Linked DNA regions of Homo sapiens: all the other regions are reported to be linked to region 2. The links are microRNA targets in miRTarBase. Many come from high-throughput screens and were not tested one by one. Region 2 holds a microRNA gene; each other region holds the end of a gene's coding sequence.

Region 1 (4,248 bases), not on the chromosome of region 2:
CTTGTGGGTGCTGGCTGAGGGTGGCAAAACGCCTACCGAGACATGAAGGTTTTAGCCACTAGTTTTGTCCTTGGGAGCCTGGGGTTGGCCTTCTACCTGCCTTTGGTGGTGACTACACCTAAAACACTGGCCATCCCTGAGAAGCTGCAAGAAGCTGTGGGGAAAGTTATCATCAATGCCACAACCTGTACTGTCACCTGTGGCCTTGGCTATAAGGAGGAGACCGTCTGTGAGGTGGGCCCTGATGGAGTGAGAAGGAAATGTCAGACTCGGCGCTTAGAATGTCTGACCAACTGGATCTGTGGGATGCTCCATTTCACCATTCTCATTGGCAAGGAATTTGAGCTTAGCTGTCTGAGTTCAGACATCTTGGAGTTTGGACAGGAAGCTTTCCGGTTCACCTGGAGACTTGCTCGAGGTGTCATCTCCACTGACGATGAGGTCTTCAAACCCTTTCAAGCCAACTCCCACTTTGTGAAGTTTAAATATGCTCAGGAGTATGACTCTGGGACATATCGCTGTGATGTGCAGCTGGTAAAAAACTTGAGACTCGTCAAGAGGCTCTATTTTGGGTTGAGGGTCCTTCCTCCTAACTTGGTGAATCTGAATTTCCATCAGTCACTTACTGAGGATCAGAAGTTAATAGATGAGGGATTGGAAGTTAATCTGGACAGCTACTCCAAGCCTCACCACCCAAAGTGGAAAAAGAAGGTGGCGTCAGCCTTGGGAATAGGAATTGCCATTGGAGTGGTTGGTGGCGTGTTGGTGAGGATTGTCCTCTGTGCGCTAAGGGGGGGCCTGCAGCAGTGACAGCTTCAAGAACTTAACAGCCTTGCTCCTGAAGAACTGGCTGCCCAGGAAGCCAAGCTAGCTTTTTAGGGGAGTGTTCCAGCTGCTGGTAGTGGATCAGCTTAGAGGGAACACTCCCACAGCCAAAAGAATGAGTGGGAGAAATGGAGGGGACAATCTCCTGGGAGCTATGCGCAGTAACCTAACTTCCTTATGTCCCATGGATCTCTTCCTGATCTTCCCTGCCCATTGGGTACCCAGGAAACTGCAAGCATTGCCTGTGTTCCTGGGAAGAGTTCTAAGAAGCTTGCATTCATTTTCTACCCTTTATGACTTGGATGCCTCCCCACCTCCATTTCCCCTCTTCTGAGCTGTGTATTCATGTAGAGGGATGTATTCAGCCTTTTTAGTGAACATTTTTTTTCAATAAAAGTAATTCACAGTAGCTGTATGGAGACCTTTTTCTGCTCTTCAGTTTCTTGTATTTATTTAAATTGTCCCATAATCAGTCTGGCTTCATTTTCCTCAGGTTTCTTAGAATAGACATTAAACCAATTGTCTGCTTTTGGGGGCAGGGGGTGCAGTGCATAAGCCTATGGCAGGGGTTGTTAGTAATGACATCCAACTCAGGTGTGTAACAGTCACTAAATATTAACAAATTGCCTGTTCTGCCCAGGTAAATCCCCTGTTTGGTATTAAATTGAATTTCTTGGCAAAACACTAGATCCTTCACCTGGTAGGTTTCCTCTTACCATTCAGACAGCACCTTGGCTTGCCTCCACTCCAGTCCTTTTAGCTCTTTCAGTGCCCTGAAGCTTCTATTCCTGGGAGGGTCAAGTATTGGTTTCTTACAGCAGCCAAGGCCCCCAAAGGAGGATTAGTACTTTGATTCCTCCATAGGAAATCCAGTCTTAAGACTCCGAGGCCATTCGGACCGTGTCTGAGATAATTGGCTTGTGGAACCATCAGGGAAAGACTCTTGGCCACCAGCTGAGCTAATTCTACTGAGAGAATTACAACATTTCTTCCTCTCACTTTTCTCTGACTACAGGAGGTAGCAGAAACCAAAGACCAGCGATTCTCTAGATGTGTGTTAGAATCATCTGGATGACCTTGTGAAAAATAAAGGTTCTTGAGCTCTAATCCTGACAATGCTAATTCAGTTTAAATTATGGTCAAAGGATCTCTATTATTTATTTTACTTTTAACTTGTAAAAATTTCAAACCCATAGAAAAGCTGAAAGAAATGTTTGGTGACCATGCATAGAACCTTTACCAAAATTCACCAGGAATTAACATTTTGTCACAATTATCTTTCTCAATATAGATTGATTTTGTTAAACCATTTGAAAGCTAGTCACAGACATTGCAACTCTTAACTCTTAAACCATGTATGCATCTCCTAATAAGGATGTTCTCTGTAACCACAATATCTTTATCACACTAAGAAAATTAACAATTTCTGGCCAGGCGCGGTGGCTCACGCCTGTAATCCCAGCACTTTGGGAGGACGAGGCGGGCAGATCACGAAGTCAGGAGATCGAGACCATCCCGGCTAACACGGTGAAACCCCGTCTCTACTGAAAGTACCAAAAATCAGCCTGGTGTGGTAGCGGGCGCCTGTAGTCCCAGCTACTCGGGAGGCTGAGGCAGGAGAATAGTGTGAACCCAGGAGGCGGAGCTTGCAGTGAGCTGAGATTGCGCCACTGCACTCCAGCCTGGGCGACAGTGCAAGACTCTGTCTCAAAAACAACAACAAAAAATTAACAATTTCTTTCTTTTCTTTTTTTTTTTTGAGACGGAGTTTTGTTCTTGTAGCCCAGGCTGGAGTGCAATGGTGTGATCTCAGCTCACTGTAACCTCTGCCTCCTAGGTTCAAGTGATTTTCCTGCCTCAGCCTCCTGAGTAGCTGGGATTACAGGTGCCTGCCACCATGCCTGGCTAATTTTTTTGTATTTTTAGTAGAGACGGGGTTTCGCCATGTTGGCCAGCCTGGTCAAACTCCTGACCTCAGATGATCCACCTGCCTCGGCCTCCCAAAGTGCTGGGATTACAGGTGTGAACCACTGGACCTGGCCAAAATTTAACAATTTCTTAATCTTATATAGTTTATACAAGTTGAGCATCCCAAGTATGAAAACCTGAAATCTGTAATGCTCCAAAACTTGAAACTTTTTGAGTACCAACATGGTGCTCAAAGGAAATGCTTATTGGAAGAGCTTAGATTTCGGATTTCTTGGATTTGGGATGCTTAACCTATAAGTATAATGCAAAGATGCCAAAATCTGAAAAAGTCTGAAATCTGGAACATGTCTGGTCCCAAACATTTTGGATAAGGGATACTCAGCCTGTATTCACTTCTCAATATCCAAAATCTTAACAGCTTTTTAATTTCATTTTTGATCCAGGATCAAATAGAAGTTCATGTGTTATGTTTCTCTTAAGTATCTTCTTTTACAACAGACCTCCTGCATTCCTTTGTCTTTCATGACATTGATTTCGTTGAATAATTTACTCCAGTTGTCTTAGATAAGATTCCATAATTTGTATTTGCCATTTCCTCATGAGTAGATTCATGAGGAATGAATCTTAAACATTTTTGACAAGAGCCCTATGTAGATATGTACTTAACTGCACCACATTACAAGGCTCATGTTTTTGTTTATGTTTTTGTTTTTTGAGATGGAGTCTTACTGTATCATCCAGACTAGAGTGCAGTGGTGCAATCTCGGCTCACTGTAACCTCTGCCTCCCGGGTTCAAGTGATTCTGATGCCTCAGCCTCCTGAGTAGCTGGGACTATAGGCATGTGCCACCACGCCTATAGATGGGGTTTCACCATGTTGGCCAGGCTGGTCTCAAACTCTTGACCTCAGGTGATCCGCCCACCTCGGCCTGTCAAAATGTTGGGATTACAAGCGTGAGCCACCGCGCCCAGCCAAGGTTGACCCACTATTGATAATAAGCTTGATCATTTGGTTAAGGTGGTGGATGGCCAGATCTCACCACCAATGTGTGTGTGTGTGTGTGTGTGTGTGTGTGTGTGTGTATTTTCCCCTTTGTAATTCATAGTCTGTGGGGTAATACTTTATGATTATATGGCTCTCCAAAAACTCTTCACATATTTTGGCATCCATTGTTTTTGCCTTGTTGAACATTACATGTTGGGGACTGCAAACTGGCAATTCTTTATGTTCATCTTACCTATATTAGCCTGCATTTCTCTGTAAAGAAGAGCTTACTCTTTTTACCCTCTTTATTTTTGAGGTCTCAATAGATTCTTCTTATTCAGTGAGCTATATATAATCCATTATCATTTTATCTTTTTTTTAACTTTTTAGGTTTAGGGGTACATGTGCAGGATTGTTGCATAGGTAAATTGCATGTCATGGGGGTTTGGTGTACAAATGATCATTATCTTGATGTTCAAATTGTCCCCAATTTTGGCCAGTAGGAGTCC
Region 2 (4,248 bases):
AAAAGTTGTGTATTCCATAATGGCTGTACCAGTTACCAAATAAGAGCATACAAGGGTTCCTTTTTCTCCGCATCCTTATCAACACATTATCTTTTGTCTTTTTGATAACAGCCATCCTAACAAGTATGAGATGATATCTCATTTCTCAATGATTAGTGAAGTTGAACATTTTTTCTTATACCTATTGGCCATTTGTATATCTATTCTGAGAAATGTCTTTTCAGGTCCTTTGCCCCTTTTTTCACCCAGTTATTTGTTTTCTTGCCATTGAGTTCTTTGAGTTCCTTATATAGTTTGGATGGTAACTCCTTATCAGATATATGGTTCACAAATATTTTCTCCTGTTCCATAAACTGTCTCTCTACTCTGTTGATCGTTTCCTTTACTGTGCAAAAGGTTTTTAGTTCCTCCAGCTTTGTTCTGTTTGCTCCAAATTGCTTTGACTATTTGAGATCTTTTGTGGTTTACATGAAATGTATGGTTTTTTTTTCTATTTCTGTAAAAATGTCATTGGAATTTTGGGGGGCATTTTATTAAATCTATAGATTGTTTTAGGTAGTATGGACATTTAAACAATATCAATTTTTCAATCCACGAACATGGGATGTTTTTCCATTCGTCTGTGTCTTCTTTAATTTTTTCATCAATGTATTATAGTTTTCAGATCTTTCACCTTTTTGGTTAGATTCATTCCTAAGTATTTTTAAATACTATTTTAAATGGGATTGCCTAATGCTGGGAGCAGTGGCTTATGCCTGTAATCCCAGCACTTTGGGAGGCTGAGGCCGGTGGATCATGAGGTCAGAAGTTCAAGACCAGCCTGGCCAACATGGTGAAACCCCGTCTCTACTAAAAACACAAAAATTAGCCGGGCGTGGTGGCGCATGTCTGTAATCCCAGCTACTTGGGAGGCAAAGGCAGGAGAATTGCTTGAACCTGGGAGGCAGAGGCTGCAGTGAGCCGAGATCATACCACTGCACTCCACTCCAGTCTGGGCAACAGAACAAGACTCTATCTCGAGAAATAAATAAATAAATAATGGGATTGCCTGATATCTTTTGCAGATTGTTAACATACAGAAATGCTATGGGCTTTTATATATCAATTTTGTATTCTGCAACGTTACCCAATTTATTAGTTTAACAGTTTTTTGGTGGAATATTTAGGGTTTTCTATGTATAAAACCATGTTGTCTGCAAACAAAAACAATTTAACTTCTTTCATTCTGATTTAGGTGACTTTTGTTTCTTTTTCTTGCTTCATTGCTCTGGCTAGAACTTCCTTTATGATGTTGAGAAGTGGCAAAATGAGCCCCCTTGTCATGTTCCTGATCTTAGAGAAAAAGTTTTCAACTTTTCATCATTTTCACCATCAAGTATGATGTTAGCTGTGGGATTGCCATACATAGACTTTATTGTGTTGATCAACAATAAAGTTCATGTATGGCAATCCCACAGCTTTATTCCTTCTATACCTAATTTATTGAGGTTTTTTAAAGTCATAAAAGGATGTAGAAATTTGTCTGTATCTATTGATATGATCATATGTTTTCCTGAGAAAAAGTAAAAATAGAACTACTATATGATCCAGCAATTCTACTTCTGGCTATATATGCAGAGGAAATGAAACCAGTATGTTGAAGAAATATCTGCATTCCCATGTTCAATGTAGCATCATTCAAAATAGCCAAGATATGGAATCAATCTAAGTGTCCATCAGTGGATGAATGGATAAAGAAAATGTGGCATATATACATAATGGAATACTATTCAGCCTTTATAAAAAGGAAATTCTATCATTTACAACAACATGAATAACACTGAAGGATATTATGTTAAGTGAAATAAGCCAGACATAAAAAGACAAATACTGTACTTATATGTAGAATCTAAAAAAGTCTAACTCACAGAAGCATCAAGAAAAATGGTGGTTACCACAGGCTGAAGGGGTGGGGAGAGATTGAGAAGGTCAGAGGATATGAAATTTCAGTTAGACAGGAGGAATAAGTTCATATCTATTGCACAATATGGTGACTATAGTTAATAAAAATGTATTGTATACTTGAAAATTGCTAAAAGAATAGATTTTAAGTGTCATCACCTCAAAAAAAATAAGTATGTGAAGTAATGGACATTTTAATTAGCTTGATTTAGCCATTCCACAATGCACACATATATCAAAAGATAATGTTGTACAGCATAAATATATGCAATTTTTATTTGTCATTTAAAATGTATAAAAATTATTGCTGTGTACCCAGGCAAGCATGATGCCTGGTGGAAGAAGTAGCTCAGTACCAAATTTTGTGCTTGCTACCAGACTGACTTCTTTGCCCACCTCCTCCCACAGGTATTGACACTAGTGGGCCCTGCTCTGTTTGACAAATCATACACTGCCATTATCCATATATTGCTTCTCCATAAAATGAGAGGGTTGGACTAGGTGGTCTATCTCAAAGGTTCTTTTCAATTCTAAATGTTATAGAACTACCATTTTCCAGACGCTGGGCCATCCTCTTGTATCTAGTAGCCAGGGGTTCAGATCAGCAAGGTGATCAGCCATTCTCAGTCAGGCAGCCCAGAGAAACATAACCTCAACCTTGCTATCTCTGTGTCCAGCCATTGACGCCCACAGAGCACACCCCTTCAACTCTAGGCCAAAGAAAAGCATGAGGAAAGAAAGCTGATTTTTGTTAAATTACTGATTTCTACTTCCACAAGGATTAAGTAAAAATCTTTTCAAATATTAGGGAAGAAATACGTTCTAAAGCACATGAGGAAAGATTAGTCCAAGTGGTCTTAGGTTGCATTTTAGTAATGTGGGTTTTCTGCCCCAGGGAGAAGCAAAGTTGTTGAAAGATGGGAAAGTCTTCAGAGTGGTGCGAGAGAATTGCTGGGATCCAGAAGTTCGTATTAGAGAAATGGACCAAAAAGGTACGATGAGAAGTGCTACCAATGTTAGCATCTGATGTAAAAGCAATGTCTGCCCTTAAAGTTTGCTGACAACTTTATGTGATGGTAACTTCTGACCCCCTTTTCTCTGCCAGGACAGGCTGTTCCAGCTTCACTGTGGGAGGGACAGGGCCTTCCACTACAATGCTTTTAGAGTGTGGATTCAAAATGTTTCATATGAGTTATACCCTGTTTTAAAATAGAATGCTATATCATGAAAAAGATAAAAATGGCATTTTATTATTTTTAAAAATTAGTTCAAATGTATAGTATTTACTTATTATAAAATCAATTAAAATAGTAAAAACTGGAAATCACAAAACTAAGAATGACAATTGCCTGCTTAATAACACTTAAGATCCAATTTCTTTCTGTAGTTTGTCTCGGTGCATCATACACAGAACATTCCCACTGACACATCAGGGTTGGAAATGGAAGCAGTTAAAAATAGTTAATTGTGTAATCTCAGAATACACTACAATAAAATCAATCCAGAAATTTGAAAGAAGAGAATTAGGAAGTGTTCGTTTCAAAGCTGAATTGCTAAAAAGCTATAAGAACATCTTGCACTTTTTACCTTATATCTAAAAATCAAACAAGTCCTCACAATTTAAAAGAATTTCAGAAAAGGCACAGTAACAGTTTGGGAGGCCAAGGCAGGTGGATCACCTGAGGTCAGGAGTTTGAGACCAGCCTGGCCAACATGGCAAAACCCTATTTCTACTAAACATACAAAAATTAGCCAGGCATGCTGGCGCGTGCCTGTAATCCCAGATGCTCAGGAGACAAAGGCACAAGAATCGCTTGAACCCAGGAGGCGGAGTTTGCAGTGAGCCGACATTGCACCACCGCACTCCAGCCTGGGCAACAAAGTGAGACTCTGTCTCAAAACAAAACAAAATGAAATTTCCAAGTCTATCTAAAGTATGACATGATGGCCACATTATGCTTCACCTGTGACTGCCTGGTTGACTGTGCCACCTGAGGAGAACATGCTCCAAGAAAATGCCTGAGCCTTCCAGACACATGTGGGCTGTGTCCATGGGCTGTGATGGGGAACTGACCACCACTGACATTGTCAGAACTAAGTGTTTACATTGGTGGAAGATTTCAACCAGAAAAGAAACAATTCAAACACACAAATAAAAGAGCAGTTTAGCACTACCACCTTCCTAATCAAAGACAAATTGTAAGAAGTTCAAATATACAAAGAGATGGCAGGAGACATTTTATTCCAAGGTCTGCAAAAAAGGAATCAAACGGTCAGCCTAAAGTGAGTAGGTGGTCTCCAGCATGT
Region 3 (4,248 bases), not on the chromosome of region 2:
TACAGGCGTGAGCCACCATGCCCGGCCCTATTTATTGAACTCTTGGCCTAAAAGGGATCCTCCTGCCTTGGCCTCCCAAAGTATTAGGATTATAAGCATGAGCCACTGCACCCAGCCTATTTCAGTACTTTACATGTTACCAGATTTATTCCTTAGGTAAACTGTCCTTCTATCTCTTTTATTTTTATAGATGAAAGAAACTGAGGCTCTTTTAAACTTTCTCAGGTCACAAACAATGTAGAAGAAACCCGAACCGTCATTAACATAGACTATTACACATGGGGGAAAATGGGTTTTAAAGTAATATATATGGAAAGGCTTTTTGACACTGAAAGGTTGGGAATCTCTGTGATCTTCTTACACATGGGTCAGGCTAAACAATTTGCTTCAGGGTACATGAGCGCAACTGGTTATTTAGCTAGTGCATGATCCATACTCAAATGAGTCATTATTGAATGACTGGTGAAATGACAAAAAGCCTCATGTTCTACTAAGGCTGTGGATAGCACAGAGCACACTGGGGGCAGAGGCTGAGCGTGTTTGTGTAGGAGCACTCAATACTGCATATGTTTCAATAATTAACTAGTGTATTTAAGAAACTTCATTCTACGTGGGCATGGTGGCTCACGTCTGTGAACCCAGAACTTTGGGAGACCGAGGCAGGTGGATCACCTCAGGTCAGGAGTTCGAGACCAGCCTGACCAACATGGCCAAACCCCGTCTCTACTAAAAATACAAAAACTAGCCTGGTGTGGTGGTGGGCGCCTGGAATCCCAACTACTCCAGAGGCTGAGGCAGGACAATCGCTTGAACCTGGGAGGCGGAAGTGGCAGTGAGCCGAGATTGTACCATTGCACTCTAGCCTGGGCGACGGAGCAAGACTCTGTCTCAAAAAAAAAAAAAAAAAAAAAAAAAGTAACTTCATTCTAGCATTCGTAGGGAATGGAGAGGTGGCCACTATCCAAATGAAACTAAAAACCTTTTTCTTCCCAGACTCATACTCCAGATTATGCACACAGAGAATACAGAAAACTATGGGAAAACTGGACATTGCACATTTTCATATGACATCATCTGTTATTTTTTTTGTCTTGCTCTGTCACCCAGGCTGGAGTGCAGTGGCGCCATCTCGGCTCACTGCAAACTCTGCTTCCTGCGTTCAAGGGATTCTCCTGCCTCAGCCTCCTGAATAGCTGGGATTACAGGCGTGCACCACCACGCCCGGCTAATTTTTTATATTTTTAGTAGAGATGGGGTTTCGCCATGTTGGCCAGGCTGGTCTCAAACTCCTGACCTCAGGTGATCTGCCCGCCTTGGCCTCCCAAAGTGCTGGGATTACAGGTGTGAGCCACCGCGCCCGGCCGACATTGTCTGTTTTAAGGGAGGTATTCCTCAGCTCTTCGGTGATAAACTGCTGATGTATTGCACTGCCTGACAGTCACCAAGTTGGAACATGATAAATACTGCAGATGTGTAAGGCACAAAATGAGACTTATACAAAGTAGAGATGGAATCGCAAGAATTCCCAGGCCCTCTTTTTATTTACAGTGATACCAAACCATCCACTTGCAAATTCTTTGGTCTCCCATCAGCTGGAATTAAGTAGGTACTGTGTATCTTTGAGATCATGTATTTGTCTCCACTTTGGTGGATACAAGAAAGGAAGGCACGAACAGCTGAAAAAGAAGGGTATCACACCGCTCCAGCTGGAATCCAGCAGGAACCTCTGAGCATGCCACAGCTGAACACTTAAAAGAGGAAAGAAGGACAGCTGCTCTTCATTTATTTTGAAAGCAAATTCATTTGAAAGTGCATAAATGGTCATCATAAGTCAAACGTATCAATTAGACCTTCAACCTAGGAAACAAAATTTTTTTTTTCTATTTAATAATACACCACACTGAAATTATTTGCCAATGAATCCCAAAGATTTGGTACAAATAGTACAATTCGTATTTGCTTTCCTCTTTCCTTTCTTCAGACAAACACCAAATAAAATGCAGGTGAAAGAGATGAACCACGACTAGAGGCTGACTTAGAAATTTATGCTGACTCGATCTAAAAAAAATTATGTTGGTTAATGTTAATCTATCTAAAATAGAGCATTTTGGGAATGCTTTTCAAAGAAGGTCAAGTAACAGTCATACAGCTAGAAAAGTCCCTGAAAAAAAGAATTGTTAAGAAGTATAATAACCTTTTCAAAACCCACAATGCAGCTTAGTTTTCCTTTATTTATTTGTGGTCATGAAGACTATCCCCATTTCTCCATAAAATCCTCCCTCCATACTGCTGCATTATGGCACAAAAGACTCTAAGTGCCACCAGACAGAAGGACCAGAGTTTCTGATTATAAACAATGATGCTGGGTAATGTTTAAATGAGAACATTGGATATGGATGGTCAGATGAAAGATACCAAAATGTCAGACAGCCCATCGACTGGTGTTGCCATGAGATTCAACAGTCAACATCAGTCTGATAAGCTACCCGACAAGGTGGTACAGCCATGGAGATGTCACGATGGTAGGCAAAACAAGCAGACAGTCAGGCAGGATTTGATAAAAAAACAAAAACAAAAACAAACCAAAAAAACCCAGGCATTTCTGGCCTGTTAAGATCGAACCCCAATTCTATTCTATTCTGACATAATGCTCATAATGCTCCTAAAGGAAAAAAGTAAAATTGTTTATTTTCCTCCCAAGCAAAACAAAATGAACAAGTTCAATCAAAAACATCCCAATGGAAAAAAATCACACTAAGAATAAAACACTTACAGAACGGCAAGAAAACTGGGTTAACATATAAATTTGTGTCTGTTGAAACCAGAGTACATGCTAGAAAACATTAACACAGATACGACAGAGTGTGGTTTTTTTTTAGAAATGGGTAATTTCTCTCTCCAGTATCCTTTCACTTGTATGAGATATTTCTCCTCTCCTGTTTTCACAAACCAAGAAATCCCCAGGTAGGCCAATCCCAGAGGTGCCATTTAGCAGTATGCAGCAGCCCAGTTTCAGCATAACAAAACATGCCTTGGTAGTGGCTCTCTCATGCAAATAAAAGAAAGCTTAAGAAATTCTTGTTGTAGGTGGATTAGGCAAGGCTGCCATTCAGCTGGTATAAGCTAAAAGTAAAAAATCAAAACGCTCAAGAAAACGGACACAATTTTGGAATGATTAAAGATGTCTTTATAAAGTTTTTTTCAAGACTTCATTCTAAATACACAGAATAAAAAATGGTGTCAGCTCACTTGTAAGACACCAACCAGATTTTCCTTATACTGTCTCAAAATTTAAAGATCAATTTCCCCAGAGGGTGTGCAATGCATCATAAAATGGCCCTTTTTTGAGGATGGGAGAGGAAGGGTTGGGCAGGATGGAATATTAAATTGTAACATGATAAACATGCAAGACTGTTATCCAATCTAGATAATTTATATACATTTTGATGACTTAGGAAAACAAAGCAATCATTTGTGACAAGCCTAAAAAGCTTGACATATTTAACATACTTAGGAACTTTTTTTGTGCGGTGGGAATTCTCTAATTGTATCATGTGGGCCTTTTGAAAGTAACAAACAGAAGGCCAGTCTGTTGCAAGTTTGCTGCTGAACATCACATTCCACCCTAAGAAAACACAAGGTGGATTGCATCGAGGGTGGATACCTTACCTTAGCACAGAAGGAAAAAGTATGTCAGTGCAAAGTATGGACTAAACTGCTTTCAGGAAAAAAGTTGTAAAAATTGATACAGGTTGGAAAAGGGAATTTTCCTTCCCGGCTTGGAGTCCTCCCAATTTAAGGCAGAACCCATCCACTCCAATTTCTGCAGTTTAAAACTTTCTCTACTTATTTAGTTTTCTCCTCTGAGTTCAACCGCTGCTGGATTCGTTTGGCATAACTTTGTGCCATGGAGTTAATGATAGATAGGATGAAGTAACACACCATGACAACGACCAACTTTTCAAACATCCAGGACAACCAGTTTTCTCCCTGTAGAAATAAATGCAGAACAATGCAATGAAAAAGGCTTCATTAGTTCAGTAGTAAAAAGAGGATCATCTATAATGCTTGAAGTGTGTAACTTACAAAACCTAAAGAATTAAAAATGAAAAGTAAGCAACCCCAACTACTCTGAAATCTCCATTACTCTCCTTTTTACACCCAACTATCAAGATTTCACTTTGTTGGATGTAAAATCAGTGTTGAATCACATAGTTTAGAATGGGATGAGTGTGAGGTTAGCTCTTC

What was found. Region 2 holds the annotated microRNA hsa-miR-5590-5p (UUGCCAUACAUAGACUUUAUU, at 1,396-1,416, shown strand). A microRNA usually pairs through its seed, bases 2 to 8, with sites in the 3' UTR of a target mRNA and lowers its output. Matches are read on the target gene's strand: a 7mer-m8 pairs with bases 2 to 8, a 7mer-A1 pairs with bases 2 to 7 and ends in A, and an 8mer does both.
Region 1: the mRNA of TMEM81 is a reported target of hsa-miR-5590-5p. The part of its 3' UTR that is shown has no 7-base or 8-base seed match.
Region 3: the mRNA of VMP1 is a reported target of hsa-miR-5590-5p. Seed matches in the 3' UTR shown: 7mer-A1 at 2,445-2,451.

Annotation. Positions count from the first base shown.
Region 1 is chr1:205,080,115-205,084,362 of GRCh38, reverse strand. It overlaps TMEM81 (transmembrane protein 81), which reads left to right. Exons shown (of 1, transcript NM_203376.2): 1 at 1-1,234. The coding sequence starts at 43. The coding sequence ends at 810. Among named protein-coding and RNA genes, the nearest start is that of TMEM81, 2.2 kb to the left of the region's middle.
Region 2 is chr2:134,856,425-134,860,672 of GRCh38, forward strand. It overlaps MIR5590 (microRNA 5590), which reads left to right and starts at 1,396; the gene lies at 1,396-1,449. ACMSD (aminocarboxymuconate semialdehyde decarboxylase) reads left to right here. Exons shown (of 10, transcript NM_138326.3): 3 at 2,837-2,933. RefSeq lists a silencer at 2,501-2,701.
Region 3 is chr17:59,839,510-59,843,757 of GRCh38, reverse strand. VMP1 (vacuole membrane protein 1) reads right to left here. Exons shown (of 12, transcript NM_030938.5): 12 at 1,503-3,990. The coding sequence ends at 3,847. It overlaps MIR21 (microRNA 21), which reads right to left and starts at 2,492; the gene lies at 2,421-2,492. RefSeq lists a silencer at 1,237-1,431 and enhancers at 2,717-3,446, 4,170-4,248.